2 separate regions of the Homo sapiens genome follow, and region 1 is linked to region 2. Evidence: fine-mapped expression QTL. Tissue or cell type: whole blood. Region 2 holds a variant in brackets; the other region holds the start of a gene. All regions are shown on one strand. Distances are between the middles of the regions.

The links. PIP is the estimated chance that this variant, and not a neighbour inherited with it, causes the effect.
Region 1: DKK3 starts here. The variant in region 2 is fine-mapped to the expression of DKK3 in whole blood (TOPMed, PIP above 0.99).

What each region holds. Positions count from the first base shown.
Region 1 is chr11:12,003,798-12,012,061 of GRCh38, forward strand. It overlaps DKK3 (dickkopf Wnt signaling pathway inhibitor 3), which reads right to left and starts at 4,829. Exons shown (of 7, transcript NM_001018057.2): 1 at 4,573-4,829. The coding sequence starts at 4,785. RefSeq lists an enhancer at 3,081-4,016.
Region 2 is chr11:11,714,415-11,722,678 of GRCh38, forward strand. No RefSeq gene overlaps it. Among named protein-coding and RNA genes, the nearest start is that of MIR4299, 62 kb to the left of the region's middle. RefSeq lists an enhancer at 2,369-3,568. The variant A/T (reference allele first, on the strand shown) is at 4,409.

The sequences.
Region 1 (8,264 bases), 290 kb after region 2:
TCTATCCCCTTAAGTACTAGATGAGCCCCTGCTTTAACCACCAGGTTTGCTGAGCTGAGGAGGATAAGAGGAAAGAATCCTCATGTCTCAATGCAACACAAAAACACTAAACTCAAAGTGTGAATAAAACCTGGTAGGCAGAAAGGCTCAACAAGGACTTAGTCAGTGGCCGGATTCTGTGCTGGATTCTGAGATGGCTGCTGAGATGTTTGAAACTTGATCACTGGCTTCATAACAATAATAATTCTAAGAATAGCCCCCACGTTTGGGGCATTGACTATGTCTGAATCGTTGCACCAGATGCCTTGAATATTGACAGCAACCTTATGGGGAAGCTGTGATTATAGAGTCAGGTCCAAAAGTTTAAAAAATTGAAATATCTGGATCCCTTCATGGACCCGCTGAATTGGGATTTCTAGAGATGAGACCCTGATAATACTGAGCTTCTCAGCTTATTCTGAGGATTTCCCTCCCCTCCCTCTGATCCCCAGTTAAGAATCTCCGTTCCAGGCAATAGGGAACTACAGCAAGTTCCAGAAGGCTAGCGGGAAATAATATAAAGAGTAGATCAGAAAGAGAGGGGAGTCAGGAAACTGGCTAGAATTAGGTCTAGGAGATGGGAGCTACTTCTGGGTAGGGACCTTCTAGGTGGGAAAGACTCTAAGTAAGTCTAGAAGGATCAAGCCACTGAGAGATGGCCACTGGATGAGTCAAGTCATTGCCTGCAGCATCCTCGGAGAGGAACACAGTGGAAAGTACCAGGATTCTGGAGTCAGACAAGGTGGGTTCAAGTCCTGGCTCTGCCACAAAGTAGCTGTATGACTTTAGGCAAGATACCAAATCCCACTAAACCTCAGCTTGCTCATTTGTAAAATAGGGATGTCCTACTTTGTTGAGTAGATATAAGAATTAAGGACCATGCAGTAGATATAAGAATTAAGGCATGAAATACACTATCTGCCACACAGCAAAGATGAAATACACAGCTGTTTTTATCCCGTTGCCCTTTAAGAAGGCAGTTTCAAAAGAAGCCAGTTTGTTTTGCCAGAGTTCTGAAGGGAATGGGTAGCTAGAAGCAGGAAGAGCAAACGTTGATATCATGTGTTTGAAGAGCTTGCCAACAAAGGGGAGAAGAAATGGGGCTGAGATAGAAGACAGAATGGGCAAGAAAATGACTTTCCTTAAAAGCAAGAGACCTTGCCCTCAGTTACCACTCTGGTTAGTGATAGAAAAAAACGCAGCTGGGAAGAGAAGACTGAAGGTGCTGGAGAGGACCCACCCAGAAGAAGAGAATGTTTTAGTGTTTTTAAAATTCCCATCGGGATCAGTTTGGCTTTCAAATAATTGACAAGTTGCCAAACCTAGAATTTGCTCTGGGCTGAGCAGATAGTCTTTTTATAAAACTTTTCCCCCCAGCTCAGCCACTGGTTATTTCAACAGAATGAGCTAACGGTTCTTAAATGGCACCATGAACTAAAAGTATAGTTTACAATGGAAATTTCAACCGCAACTATTATTGCCACTAGCAAGAGAAACTTAAGTCTGAAGCAAAAGGAGCTGTTTCGTAGAGGAGGAATGTGAATGCTATTAAAAATGGCACTTATACTAGAAATAGGTGAGGCAGTAAGAACATTCTAAAATGAGTGAGTTACAGAGCTGGCCATGAGGGGAAGAGAAACAGAGTGGTTATATCTTCAGAATACATTGATTGGTAGCATATAGAATAGTAACACAGGAAAGTAGGAATATCCCAGATTGAAGCCATTTGAAGATATGCTTCTTCCAATAATGACCGTACAAGTAGAGCTGCTTTGTCCTTCCCCTTAAGAAACTTCAACAGCTTGATTCAGCTGGAACATTGAAAATGCCAGGAAGTTACTTGAAAGGAGATTCATGATGCAACTATGTAAACAAATAATGCATCTGGCCCAGGTCCTTTTTGATTTTTCCCCTGAACAATGACTAAATACCAATTATCCTGTGTCTATGAGATTTAAGGGGCATTCTGGCAGTCTCCATAAAAAGTTAATACTAATAACCACAGTCTATAAACAATCTATTGTATTCTATTTTTGAAGATATCTAAAAGATACTTTTAGTATTTTAAGATTAATTTTTAATGGTTTAAGATATTTTAAAAGATAGATTCTATTGAGAATCTATCAGACACTGGTGGTGTTTTGTTATCATTCATACTGCTACTAGTAATATGATGATAATGATACCTGTTACTTATTTACAACCAACCATCATGTCATCCTTACAGCCACCTCACAATGAAGCTACCTGTATTACACGTGTTTTACTTAACCCCATTTTAGGCAGTCAGCGGATGGCCTGCCCTAGAACCACAGGCATCACAAGCTCAATTTAATGTGAAGCTGCAGAATTAAGAGACATTGGGGCCTATATGACTCCCTTCACCCTTTAATTGTTCCATGTCATGATAGTTTCACAATCACAGGAAACAAAGATCATGGATCTTGGGCTCTTGACCTGACCAGTGGATATTCAGGGATAGCTGCCCAACTCACTGATTTGCTTTACTTGCAGCATCTCATTTAATTCTCACCTTACCCTAAGAGGTGGACATTTCTCCACTTCAGACTCGGAACGCCACTGCCAGTAAGTGGCAGAGCAGGGACTGGATGAGGGAAGATCAGTCCCCACTGCCTCTTCTCCTGCCATGGTGTTCAACCTCTCTCATCCTGTACCCACTGCCAGCGAGGACACCTCTGGGAAAGAGTGGGGTAGAAGTGACAGCCCACATCTCCTCTGGTGGCAAACTTCAACCCCCCAACCTACACAGAGCCACATCTAGAGGGAGGAAAGCTGGGGTCTTGGCAAAATCCAGTCTGGATAACGCCCATGGAGAAGACCCCGTCACTAGGTCCTGCAGGGCCCCACACTGCTCTGCTCAAGAAGAGACTGAAGAGGCCCTTGCTGCTCTCTCTCCTCCCTCAGCAGAAGCTAACGTCAGAGGACCACGCTGCAGACTTTCTGAACAGTGGTGGGCACAAAAACATAGAGGTGACTTAGTCAGTCTTACCGGGAATCTGTGTGCAGGAGGGAAAGTCCTAGAACCTGGATAAGGAAAGCAGATGGCCTGCCCTAGAACCAGAGGCATCGCAAACTCCACTTAATTTGAAGCTTCAGAGTTAAGAGACATTGGGGCCTATCTGAATCCCTTCACCCTTTAATTGCTCCATGTCATGATTGTTTTGCAATCACAGGAAACAGAAAGATCATGGGTCTTGGGATCTGGGCCTGTCCAGTGGATATTCAAGGACAGCTGCCCATTTCACTGCCTCCCAAGCCAGTGTCCCCTTCACTGCAAACTCCACAGGCTAACTGTTGTGGAGTGGGAGGGGAAATAGCCCCAAACTACAAAGGGCTGCGGGGAGAAAGCAACTTCCCCCTGGAGACAAGGGCCAGCAGTTAAGGCTTTGCCCAAGGGGGATACCAAGCTGGAGACAGCAGGGATGTGAAGCCAGACCAGGGGCCAACCAGCCTGGACATTGGTTTCCTGCTGCCTCCTTCACTAGGACGGCTGGCTCCTCTCTATAGACACAGGCTACAGACAGATTGGGCCCAACAGCGCCCTCGTCTACCCACCCCAGGCACCAGGGACAGCTCCCCGCACCTGGACAGAGAGGGCTGGGCCAGTGACATCTCCTGCCCAGGTAGCCCTGGGCATGCGTGGGTGACCATCACAGAGGACAGAACAAGATGCCACCCACAGTGTTTAGACCTGGAGGTGATGGAGGGCAGAAGCTAGGCAAAGCTTTGCTAAGGTACGTGGTATCTGATAATAGTTGCTAAATACTGCGCACCTATTATTTGCCAGGTGCCCACACATATGACATTTAGTTTTCACAGGAAACTGAGGTGCAGGATATTAAGTGATTTGCCCAATGTCACCCTGCTACTGAGTGGCAGAGGAGGACCTGAGCCCAGGACAACTGCGAAGCACCGTTGGGTGGAGGGGGTATTGCCTCTCACATCCTCATCCGCCACTCATACAGTGCTGAGATTTAGGATTTCCATCTTCCCTCTCTGCCCCCACATTGCGTGAGAAGCAAGACAGCCCAGACAGACTGCCAGCAAAGCTCAGGGCTCTTTGCCTCTTTGTCCCTGCATGGCATCCTAACAAGCTCAAAGCATAACGGACAAGCTAGAACTTGGCGATGCCTGGAGCTTGTCCCGGGTTTCTGTGAAACCACAGTGCTGGAATACCAGGGGCCCTGCAAACCTCTGCTGACAATAGGGAAGGCCAACGGCATGCCTGACGCCAACTGCAGGCAGGTGGTGGCCCCAGCTACCTAGGGAGGGTCCAGTGCAGAGCCTCTCGGTGGACAGGCTCAGATCCAGACTTTTTGGCAAGGAGGCAAAACGAGGCGGGAGTAGGGATCACCGTGCGCTGCCTCCAGGTCACTCCGCATCTGCTGTCGGCCCTTCCCAGGCCCTGCGCGGGACCCGAGGTCCCTGGCCAGCGCTCTTCCATGCCTTCCCAGACTTCGCTGCCCCCAGTCTGGCGCTTCTCAGAGCCCCGCGCCGCCAGGGCGCACCCACCTCTTCCACCGCGCTGCGCAATTTGTGCTGCGTGTCCTCCATCAGTTCCTCAACCTCGCGGAACATCTCATTGAGGGTGGCCTCCTCCTGCGGGTAGCTGAGAGCCGGGCCGGGCTTGACTGGAGCCGAGGTCGCCGTCGGAGCGGGCGCGGGGGCCGTGGGGACCGCCGCCGCCAGCAGCAGGCACAGCAGGGTGGCCCCAAGCCGCTGCATCTCCGCTCTGCGCCCGCAGCCGCCGCCTGTGTGTCCCGGAACGCGATCAGAGGCGCGCGGACCACCCCCCTCGCTGGGCCCGCCGCCCCGCCCCGTTCCGCCCCGCCGCCCGCCCCTGGCGCCCCTCTTTCCCGCACCCGCCCGGAGACGGGAGGAAACCGAGGCCCCTGAAAACGCAGCTCCCCTACACCCGAAAAGACGCGACCCCACCCGCTCCAGCCCGAGCCCCGATCGCCCCAGGACCCCGCACCCCCATCCTCGAGCACAAGCTGAGCTCTGCTCCTCACCTGTGATGCTGGAGCCCTCGCCAGAGCAACCGAACCCGGATCCTCTACGCTAATAGCTCCCAAGCCCCAGCTCACCTAGACTCTGTCCCCGGTTCAAACCCTAGCCCCTCCTCGACCAGGTCAGAGTGCCCGACCCCCACTTCCACCTCAAGCCTCTCTCAGCCCCTACCTGGGGTGGACCAAGCACAGGTCAGCCCCCTCCCCTTGGCGTCGGGTCCTACTCGAGCGCCCCGCCCCACATCCACCAAGAGAGGCTGAGCTCAGCAGAGTCGTCCCCTCCCCCGCCGCCGCCCCTCACCCACCCCGACTGGACCGAGTTGCGCTGCGGGCCGGACTGGATCTGCTCGCTCCCGCCGGGAGGCCGCCGGGCTGCGGGTGCAGATGCGGGAGCGGCGCGGTGGGCGGGCCGCGGGTGCGGGAGCGCGGCGGGGTGCGGCAGCGCCGGTACCCGAGGGAGCCCGCAAGACGCGCCCCGCCCGCCCACCAGGCTCCCTCTCCGCCCCCGCCCCGAGCCCCGCCCGCCCACCAGGCCCACCCCGCCCCGCGGAGGGGCCGCAGCCCGGCCATTGGCCAGCCGGGGCGCCGGCCACCTCACGCCCCACGCCCCACGCCCTCCTCTTCTGCCTCAGCGACCAGCTCTACCGAAGGCAGCCATCTCCTTCACTGCCTGCCCCTGCGCCCGCGGCATCCCAGGCCCGTCTTCTCTGGCCTCCAGGCTTGCAACAGCCCACCGAGGTTGGGGGTAGGGGGAATGTTCCTCAGTCCCACCTTGGTCTTTCCAAGCCAACCTCTGTCCTGTGAAATCCTCAGGAAAAATCCCAGCCCCCAGCCTGGCATTCAAGCCATCACCGCTGGCCTTAGTCTGCCGTGATTGACACCGTGCTCCAGCCAGGATAACGCACTTGCAGCTCCTGGAATGGGAGAACGTCATGAGAAAGTCAGCAAGCTCCTCAAGGGTGGCATAGAGGAGTGGTCAGGACCAGACACCTGCAGCCAGCTCTGCTCCTTCCTAACTTCCCGCCCTGGCGAAGTTACCAGATTTGTATGCGTCCCAGTTAGCCCTAATATAAAACTTTGACAAGTCTCAAAAACGTAATAAGGAGTGGGTAGTGGAGAATCAGAGAAGTTAGACGATCAGGCCAAACAGCAGGTGAAGGCAGGGATGGCCAGAGGTCCTGAGTGTAGCTGACTGCTCTCCAGCTTGAAACCCCAAGACTGCCTTTCTCTGCAGCACTCCCCACATTACTGTTTACCGCCAAAACAGCCGCTTTCCCTTCTACTTCTGGGCCTGGGGCAGGGCCCTCCTGAACTGCAAGGAAAGCCCCATTCCCCGGCATCTCCTGCTCTGTCCCCTGGGCATCTGGAAGCCCTGGTTGAGCATTCATTAGCTTTCTGGGGGTGGCTGAGCCCGTCCAGGAACCTGGAGCTGAGTCTCCACATGCCCCCGCTTGTCACTTCGGGCAGAGTGGACATTAGGAAGAAACTAATGCCGAACTGGAGGGTGCTGTGGGGGCATATTGTGGGGCCGAGCTAGGAAATGCAGTGCTGCGGGTTTACAGAGCACATCATGCTCTTCCAGTCCTTCATGTTGCTGGCTTAAAGACCAGGAATTTCCCCAGCTGAGATTGTCTTCTGCCTTACACCTTCTACCATGCGGTCTGGAGGTCTTGACTTTCAGAGTCAACCTAAAAATCTCTCTATATCGAACTGCCCCAAGTGTCAGGCAAAGGGACGCTTGTTTTCTTGTGTGGAGTCTACATTTTGTATTCCCAAATGTAATAATTTATCAGTAGTTCAATTATTAGGTTAAACTACAAACGAAAAAAAGAAAGGAAAGAAAAGAAGGAAAGAAAGAGAGAAAGAGAAAGAGAGAAAGAAAGAAAAGAAAGAAAGAAAGAAAGAAAGAAAGAAAGAAAGAAAGAAAGAAAGAAAGAAAGAAAGAAAGAAAGGGAGAGAGAAGAAACGGTAAGAAAATCTACAGGTCTCAAATATAAGTGGTCTTCCTGCCCAGCTCCATGCCAGTCCGCGCACCAGCCTGAGACATTCATGGGCTCGAAGGAAAAGCCCTGGGGCCAGCTGTAGAGATGAGCCCAAACCAGATCTGGACAAGGAGTGTCAGCTCCAAAGAACTCAGACTGGGGAGCCCAGTGGGGTCGGGGACTTGTTGGAGAAAGGGCCAGTCTGGATGGCCATTGTGAGGTGAGGGGCACAGAGCAGGCAGAGAGTGCAGAGCCATCCAGGACAATCATAGGTAGAGTAGAGAACATTCTACATTTCCACAATTCCCATTGTGTCACTGGCTAAGCTCTGTATCCACTGGGAACAGTTGATTTTTTCTTTTAAGTCATTGGAAACACATTCTGGAATTATTATTTAAAATTTTAGGTTCTCACATTTTCTCTATGAGGGAGCTCCCAAGTCATAAACTGGGGACCCATTTCATGGTTGAGGAAATGGCAGCAAAGCGGATATAACTGGCTGAAAATTGCCTAGAAAGTGGCCACACAGCAATTTCACAATTAGCTGTCCACCCTCCAGAAACTCATGACCATGTGCAAAAGAAGACATGTATAAAGATGTTTACTGAGGCAGTATCTATAATGGCAAAAAATGTGGAAACTACTTGCTGGTGTTTTCCAGCAGGAGAATGGATAGACCGGGGCTTCTACAATAATAGAATACTGTACAGCAGGTAGAATAATGAACAATATTTATAGGCAGCAACATCACCAACTCTCAAAAATATAATATGAGGTGGAAAAGGCAATTTGCGAAAAGACATATATGGGATACGATTTGTGCATATCTTAGAAAAACAGAACAATAGCATTCATTGTTTATGGATTCTCACATATAATAAAAATATAGAAATGTGCAGGCTGCCTCTGAGGTGGGAGGCAAGGAAGGGATGGAGGATGTCTTCAGTTGTATTGATAACATTTTATTTCTTCAAGAAAGGGAGTGTACCAGCATGGAGGAATTCTGAAACAGAAGTGTCCAAATATTCGCATCTGTTTAATCAACCATGATGATTACTTACATCAGGATATATGGGTGTGGCTGGTTCTTTTTATTATTTTTGGTATATTTAAAATATTTTGTGAATAAATTGGTAAATAAAAGCAGAAGGCACCATCCCATCCTCCAAACAAAACAAAACAAAAACAACTCAAAAAAACCTCTTGTAGTCAA
Region 2 (8,264 bases):
TCTCTTGTAGGCATTTAGTGCTATAAATTTCCCTCTACACACTGCTTTAAATATGTCCCAGAGATTCTGGTATGTTGTGTCTTTGTTCTCGTTGGTTTCAAAGAACATCTTTATTTCTGCCTTCATTTCGTTATGTACCCAGTAGTCATTCAGGAGCAGGTTGTTCAGTTTCCATGTAGTTGATCGGTTTTGAGTGAGTTTCTTAATCCTGAGTTCTAGTTTGATTGCACTGTGGTCTGAGAGACAGTTTGTTATAATTTCTGTTCTTTTACATTTACTGAGGAGTGCTTTACTTCCAACTATGTGGTCAATTTTGGAATAAGTGCAGTGTGGTGCTGAGAAGAATGTATATTCTGTTGATTTGGGGTGGAGAGTTCTGTAGATGTCTATTAAGTCCACTTGGTGCAGAGCTGAGTTCAATTCCTCGATATCCTTGTTAACTTTCTGTCTCATTGATCTGTCTAATGTTGACAGTGGGGTGTTAAAGTCTCCCATTATTATTGTGTGGGAGTCTAAGTCTCTTTGTATGTCTCTAAGGACTTGCTTTATGAATCTGGGTGCTCCTGTATTGGGTGCATATATATTTAGGATAGTTAGCTCTTATTGTTGAATTGATCTCTTTATCATTATGTAATGGCCTTGTCTCTTTTGATCTTTTTTGTCTTAAAGTCAGTTTTATCAGAGACTAGGATTGCAACCCCTGCCTTTTTTTGTTTTCCATTTGCTTGGTAGATCTTCCTCCATCCCTTTATTTTGAGCCTATGTGTGTCTCTGCATGTGAGATGGGTTTCCTGAATACAGCACACTGATGGGTCTTGACTCTTTATCCAATTTGCCAGTCTGTGTCTTTTAATTGGGGAATTTAGCCCATTTACATTTAAGTTTAATATTGTTATGTGTCAGTTTGATCCTGTCATTATGATGTTAGCTGGTTATTTTGCTCATTAGTTGATGCAGTTTCTTCCTAGCCTCGATGGTCTTTACAATTTGGAATGTTTTTGCAGTGGCTGGTACCAGTTGTTCCTTTCCATGTTTAGTGCTTCCTTCAGGAGCTCTTGTAGGGCAGACCTGGTGGTGACACAGTCTCTCCGTATTTGCTTGTCTGTAAAGTATTTTATTTCTCCTTCACTTATGAAGGTTAGTTTGGCTGGATATGAAATTCTGGGTTGAAAATTCTTTTCTTTAAGAATGTTGAATATTGGCCCCCACTCTCTTCTGGCTTGTAGAGTTTCTGCGGAGAGATCAGCTGTTTGTCTGATGGGCTTCCTTTTGTGGATAACCTGACCTTTCTCTCTGGCTGCCCTTAACATTTTTTCCTTCATTTCAACTTTGGTGAATCTGACAATTGTGTGTCTTGGAGCTGCTCTTCTTGAGGAGTATCTTTGTGGCGTTCTTCGTATTTCCTGAATTTGAATGTTGGCCTGTCTTGCTAGATTGGGGAAGTTCTCCTTAATAATATCCTGCAGAGTGTTTTCCAACTTGGTTCCATTCTCCCCGTCACTTTCAGGTACACCAATCAGACATAGATTTGGTCTTTTCACATAGTCCCATACTTCTTGCAGGCTTTGTTCGTTTCTTTTTATTCTTTTTTCTCTAAACTTCTCTTCTCACTTCACTTCATTCATTTGATTTTCCATCACTGATACCCTTTCTTCCAGATGATCACATCGGCTACTGAAGCTTGTGCATTTGTCATGTAGTTCTCCTGCCATGGTTTTCAGTTCCATCAGGTCCTTTAAGGACTTCTCTACACTAGTTATTCTAGTTAGCCATTCGTCTAATCTTTTTTCAAGGTTTTTAACTTATTTACCATGGGTTCAAACTTCCTCCTTTAGCTTGGAGAAGTTTGATCATCTGAAGCCTTCTTCTCTCAACTCGTCAAAGTCATTCTCTGTCCAGCTTTGTTCCATTGCTGGTGAGGAGCTGCGTTCCTTTGGAGGAGGAGAGGTGCTCTGATTTTTAGAATTTTCAGTTTTTCTGCTCTGTTTTTACCCCATCTTTGTGGTTTTATCTACTTTTGATCTTTGATGATGGTGAGGTACAGATGGGGTTTTGGTGTGGATGTCCTTTCTGTTTGTTAGTTTTCCTTCTAACAGTCAGGACCCTCAGCTGCAGGTCTGTTGGAGTTTGCCGGAGGTCCACTCCAGACCCTGTTTGCCTGGGTATCAGCAGCGGAGGCTGCAAAACAGCGAATATTGGTGAACAGCAAATGTTGCTGCCTGATCGTTCCTCTGGAAGTTTTGTCTCAGAGGGGTACCCAGCTGTGTGAGGTGTCAGTCTGCCCCTACTTTGGGGTGCCTCCCAGTTAGGCTACTCGGTGGTCCAGGACCCACTTGAGGAGGCAGTCTGTCCATTCTCAGATCTCAAGCTGCATGCTGGGAGAACCACTACTGTCTTCCAAGCTGTCAGACAAGGACATTTAAGTCTGCAGAGGTTTCTGCTGCCCTTTGTTTGGCTATGCCCTGCCCCCAAAGGTGGAGTCTATAGAGGCAGGCAGGTCTCCTTGAGCTATAGTGGGTGGGCTCCACCCAGTTCGAGCTTCCCGGCCGCTTCGTTTACCTGCTCAAGCCTCAGCAATGGTGGGCGCCCCTCCCCCAGCCTTGCTGCCGCCTTGCAGTTTGATCTCAAACTGCTGTGCTAGCAATGAGCGAGGCTCCATGGGCGTAGGACCCTCCAAGCCTTGCACGGGATATAATCTCCTGGTGTGCCATTTGCTAAGACCATCGGAAAAGCTCGTATTAGGGTGGGAGTGACCCAATTTTCAGGTGCCATCTGTCACCCCTTTCTTTGGCTAGGAAAGGGAATTCCCTGACCCCTTGCGATTCCCGGGTGAGGCAATGCCTCACCCTGCTTCGGCTCATGCTTGATGCACTGCACCCACTGTCCTGCACCCACTGTCCGGCACGCCCCAGTGAGATGAACCCAGTACCTCAATTAGAAATGCAGAAATCATCCGTCTTCTGCGTCACTCACGCTGGGAGCTATAGACTGGAGCTGTTCCTATTCAGCCATCTTGGAACTGCCCCAGTACACCAAAATTTAAATGCCAAGACATGTCATAACCTGTCCTCTCATTTCTGTATACCACAGGCATTACGTACATTCTTGGCAATGGATGGTTCTGGCATCTGTTGGTTACTATCAGGCCAAGGGAGTGGCATTAGGTGTGGCTTCAGAGCAAGGCAGAGCTTGAGCCATGAGGCAAGCTCACTGAAATGTACCCAGCGTTTATCAGATTGAACACTCTTTCTGGAAATATCCTCAGGAACAAGGACCATCACGGATTGCACCTTTACTACATACCAGGCACTGGGTCAAGTACCTCATGGTCATTCACACTGATTTCTCACAACTCTTGTGAACAAACTAGAGCATAGAGAAGGTAGGAAACTTGCCCACAGTCACACAGCAACCTTCCAAGAAGGCAGAAACCATGTTGGGTTTTTTTTCCCAAATTTGGATTTCTAAATCCAGTATTCTTTCTACTACATCACAGCTGTGCATTTATTTATAGAAACATAAATAAGATTGCAAAAGAAATGTTTAGCTTAAGAAAGCCAACAGTTTTAAAGAGTCTATAAAATTACTTTAATCTAACCCATCTGTCTACAGAAACTTACTGCATTAATTACGAATGTTGTTACCTGTTCACTTAACAGAGACAAATATGCATAATTGCTACTCACAAAGCTATGTAATGCCAATTGTTTGCATCACCTAGTTTTTCACTGAGAGACAACATTGTGTAGTAGAAAATATAGGAGCTTCGAAGTCAGAGAAATGGGTTCAAATCCTGGCTCTCCTGTGCACCAGCTCTGTTGTTTTGGACAAGCCATTTAACTTCACTGAACCTCAAATTCCTTATATAAAAAGCTGTTATTAACACCAATTTCTGGCTTATTGGAAAGATTAAATGAGGGAATGTATATAAGACACCTAGTACAGTGTCTGGTACCTAGCAGGTGCTAAATAATAGAAAGCTATCACTATTCCTAGGAAATAACCTCACTTCTTAAAAATATCCTCCAATTCAAATATTACTGATGAGCAAGTTCCGCTAAATACAGAAATCTGATAAGCCAGCAAGTCCACTTTCAGGAATCCAGCCTACAGAAACATTCACTTCTACAGACAAAGTTATAAGTGTGTACAATAATATTAATTACAGAATTGTTCATAATATTGGATAACGGAAAACAACTTACATATTCATCAAAAGAAGAATGGCTAAAGAAATTATGATTTATCCATATCAGGGCAAACTTTTTCTCTAAAGAGCCAGAGAGTAAATATTTTAAGGCTTTGTGGGCCATATGGTCTATGTCGTAGCTACTCAGCTCTGCTGTTGTAGCACTAAATCAGCCACATACAACATACAAAAAAATGCATATGACTGCATCTCAAAAAA[A/T]TTTTTTTTTTTTTACAGAAACAGATGGAGGACCAGATCTGACCTCAGGGTTTCACATATATGGCTGAATACGATGCAACCATTTTTTTAAAAATCAAGTACACCTATAGTATCTAGACAGAAAGATATCCACAAGCACTTCTACAAATCATAAGAAAAAGACAAACAATGTGGTAAAAATTGGGGAAGGAATATGAACAAGCCACTCATAAAAGAGGAAATTCACATAAGCAGTTTGAAAAGTTGCTCATCTGTCTAATTGATAAACTTTCCAAAAGCAAACTAAAACAAAAAGATCCTATTTTCATTCATCATATCTGCAAAAACCAAAACACTGACAGAATCAAGTGTTGAGGATACTGTAGAGGAAAAAATACACTTATACACTGTTGGAAGAAATATAAATGAAGACAATCACTTCAGAAGGTTCTTTGGCAGAATCTATTAAACCTGCAAATGTGCTTATCCTGTGACCCAGCATTTCCTAGTCTAGATCCGTACCCAGGGAACCACTTTCACATGCATCCAAGAAGACTGGATAAGAAAGCTATCTGAAGCATTCAAATAGCAAGAAATTGAAAATGACCTAAAGGGACATCAATAATGGAATGGAAAAATATAATGTGGCAGAATGCAATTCAGTGACTAAGAGGACTAAACCAAATCTCTGTTCATAAGTGTAGTTAGATCTCAGAAATACAATGCCAAGTTTTAGAACAATTCTTATAGTATGATACAATGTATGTAAGAACATAGACATAAAAAATAAACAATGCTATCCATTTATTATGGGTGCATGTGTGCAAAGTAAGGTCTGGAAGGATATGCGCTATATTCAAAGAGTAGTTATCTCAAAGCATAGGGAAGACCAGGATTAAAGGTGGTGGTCAAAGGGGACTTTAGCTTTACCTACAATATTCTAACTTTTAAAAAAAATTCATCTATATAACTAAAGTAAATTTAACAAAAAATGTGTTTCTGATATATTATGTAAGCTTCAAAATGACATAATTATATTTATTTTATTTTTAAAATTATTATATGTTTTTTACACACACATGTATGTGTGAGCACATGCACATGTATACTTGTGTCTGGAAGGGTAAATACCAAATAGTTAATAGGATTGCTTGGTCATGGATTGGAATTGAGGGCTAGGAAAGGAGACTTTGCCTTTGTATTATGAGGAAGTATGGTATGGGAGCCCTGCTGGAGCTGAACCAGCTAGGTTCCAATGCCCCCTGTGTCACTTCAGAGCTGCATAGCCATGGGAAAGTCAACCTCCGTTTTCTCCTCTGAAAAATTGGGATATATAATATGGTACTTACTAAGTGCCAGGCACTCTTATAAGTATTTTAGATATATTACCTCATTTCATCCTCACTTCAGCCCTATGAGGTAAGATCATATCCCTATTTTAGAAATGAGGAAACTGAGATACAGAGAGATTAAGTGACTTGCCAAGGTCACCATACCTGAAAGGGGCAGAGCTGGCTCCAGAAACCACAGTCTTACATCATTATCACTACTCTAAGTGTAAGTTCTTGCTATTTCACTTTATGTAACATGTTCAAATATATGTAAGTTTCAAAATCTTTGAATTTTATAACTTAGAATATATATTACATATGTGTGTATGTATATGTAGCATTAGTTTCCTATAGCTGCTATAATAAATTGCCACAAATTTAGGGCTTGAAACAATAAAACTTTATTTTCCACAGTTATGGAGCTCTAAAGGAATCTAAAGCCAAAGTGTTGTCAGGGCTGCATCCCTTCTGGAGGCTTTAAGACAGCATTCATTTCCTTGCTCTTTCCAGCTTCTAGAAGCTGCTTGCATTCCTTGGCTCCTGGTCCCTTCCTCTATCTTCAAAGCACAGTTTCCAACATCTAGTTCAGTCACTATTTTTTCTTTTTCTGACTCAGTCTGCTCCCATTTCTCTCTTGTAAGGGCCTTGTATTATGTTGGGCCTACCCAGATACTCCAGGATAATCTCTCTGTCTCAGGATCCTTAAATTAATCACATTTGCAAATTTCCTTTTTCCATGTAGGGTGACATAGTCACAGATTCCAGGGATTAGGATGTGCACATCTTTGGGGGCCATTGTTCTGTTTACCATGCATGCATGTGTGTGTATGTATGTATGTATATACATACACACCACATATATACAAACACATACTTTAAATATACTTTTTTTTTTTTGAGATGGAGTCTTACTCTGTTGCCCAGGCTGGAGTGCAGTGGTGCGTTCTTAGCTGACTGCAACCTCCACCTCCCGGGTTCAAGTGATTCTTCTGCCTCAGCCTCCTGAGTAGCTGAGACTACAGGTGCCTGTCACCACGCCCAGCTAATTGTTGTATTTTTAGTAGAGATGGGGTTTTGCCATGTTAGCCAGGCTGGTCTTGAACTACTGATCTCAGGTGATCTGCCTGCCTCAGCCTCCCAAACTGTGGGGATTACAGCCATGAGCCACTGTGCCTGGCCTACCTTAAACATCTAATGGAGGAAATTAGATATTGTCCTCTTCCATTTTCTGCTGCTTTGACAGAATATCACAGATCAGGGAATTTATAAAGAAAGGTGATTTATTTGGTTCATGGTTCTGGAGGCTGAGAAGTTCAAAGGCATAGCAACAGCATCTGCTCAGCCATCTGGTGAGGAACTTCTTGCTGCCTCATAACATGGTGGAAGGTCATCACATGGCAAGAAAATGTGCACATGAGACAGAGAGAGGAAATTGGGCCAAACTCATCCTTTTATCGGGGCACACTTCTGAGACAAGTAACCCACTCCTGTGATAACAGCATTAATCCATTTATGAGGGCAGACCCCTCATGACCTAATCACCTTTTAAAGGTCCCACCTTTTAATACGGTCACAATGGCAATTAAATTTCAATATATTTTGAAGGGGACATTCAAGCCATAGCAGATATATTAATCATGACACACATACAAAATGCATACTGATCAATAGTGCATTAGATGAAACTGTATTTCTATACATATATATATATTTTTTGAGACAGAGTCTTACTCTGTCACCTAGCCTGGAGTGCAGTGGCTAAATCACATCTCACCGTAGCCTTGATCTCCTGGTCTCAACCTCCCACCTCAGCTTTCCAAATAGCTGAGACTACAGGCATGTGCCACTGTACCCAGCTAATTTTTGTATTTTTTTGTAGAGACAGGGTCTCACCATTTTGCCCAGGCTGGTGTCAAACTCCTGGGCTCAAGTGATCCCCCACCTCAGCCTCCCAAAATGCTGGGATTATGGGCGTGAGCCACCCACCCAGCCTACTTATACTTTTTTTAATGGCAGGAATCTGAGCTTAAGAAAAAGGAATTGACTGAGCCTCCTGCCCAGAAGATAAGGGGTCCAGGGAGCAGGAGGTTCAGGTGTCATGCCTGCCCACATGGTTGGGAATTACTGATCTAGCCTGATACAGCAGGGTTAGAAAATAAGCAGGGGCTCCGTAGACCGGCAGGTCCCATGGGCCCCCCAGCACAGCACAGTAGATACTTGATTTAAAACTGCAGGATGACTTAAAGAGCACCCTCTCCATATTCCATTGGATCAGACAAACAGATCCAGAGAGAATCAATGGGCTGTTTGTCCAAACTAGCCCCAGGGCTAGGTTTATATCAGTTATAACATGGCTCTCTGACACCTCCTTTCTCAGGCTTTGGCAATGTCTCCTGAAATAGCTGTATTCTAACTAACTAAGCACTAAACCCCTGCTTCTAGAAAGAAGAGAGGCTTGCGATTTTCTTTTAAAAAAATCCTTGCATCTGGTGTTCAGCTGTAAGAGCCTCAATGGTGCCACTAAGTTGATTCTGTTTCTTCTTGAA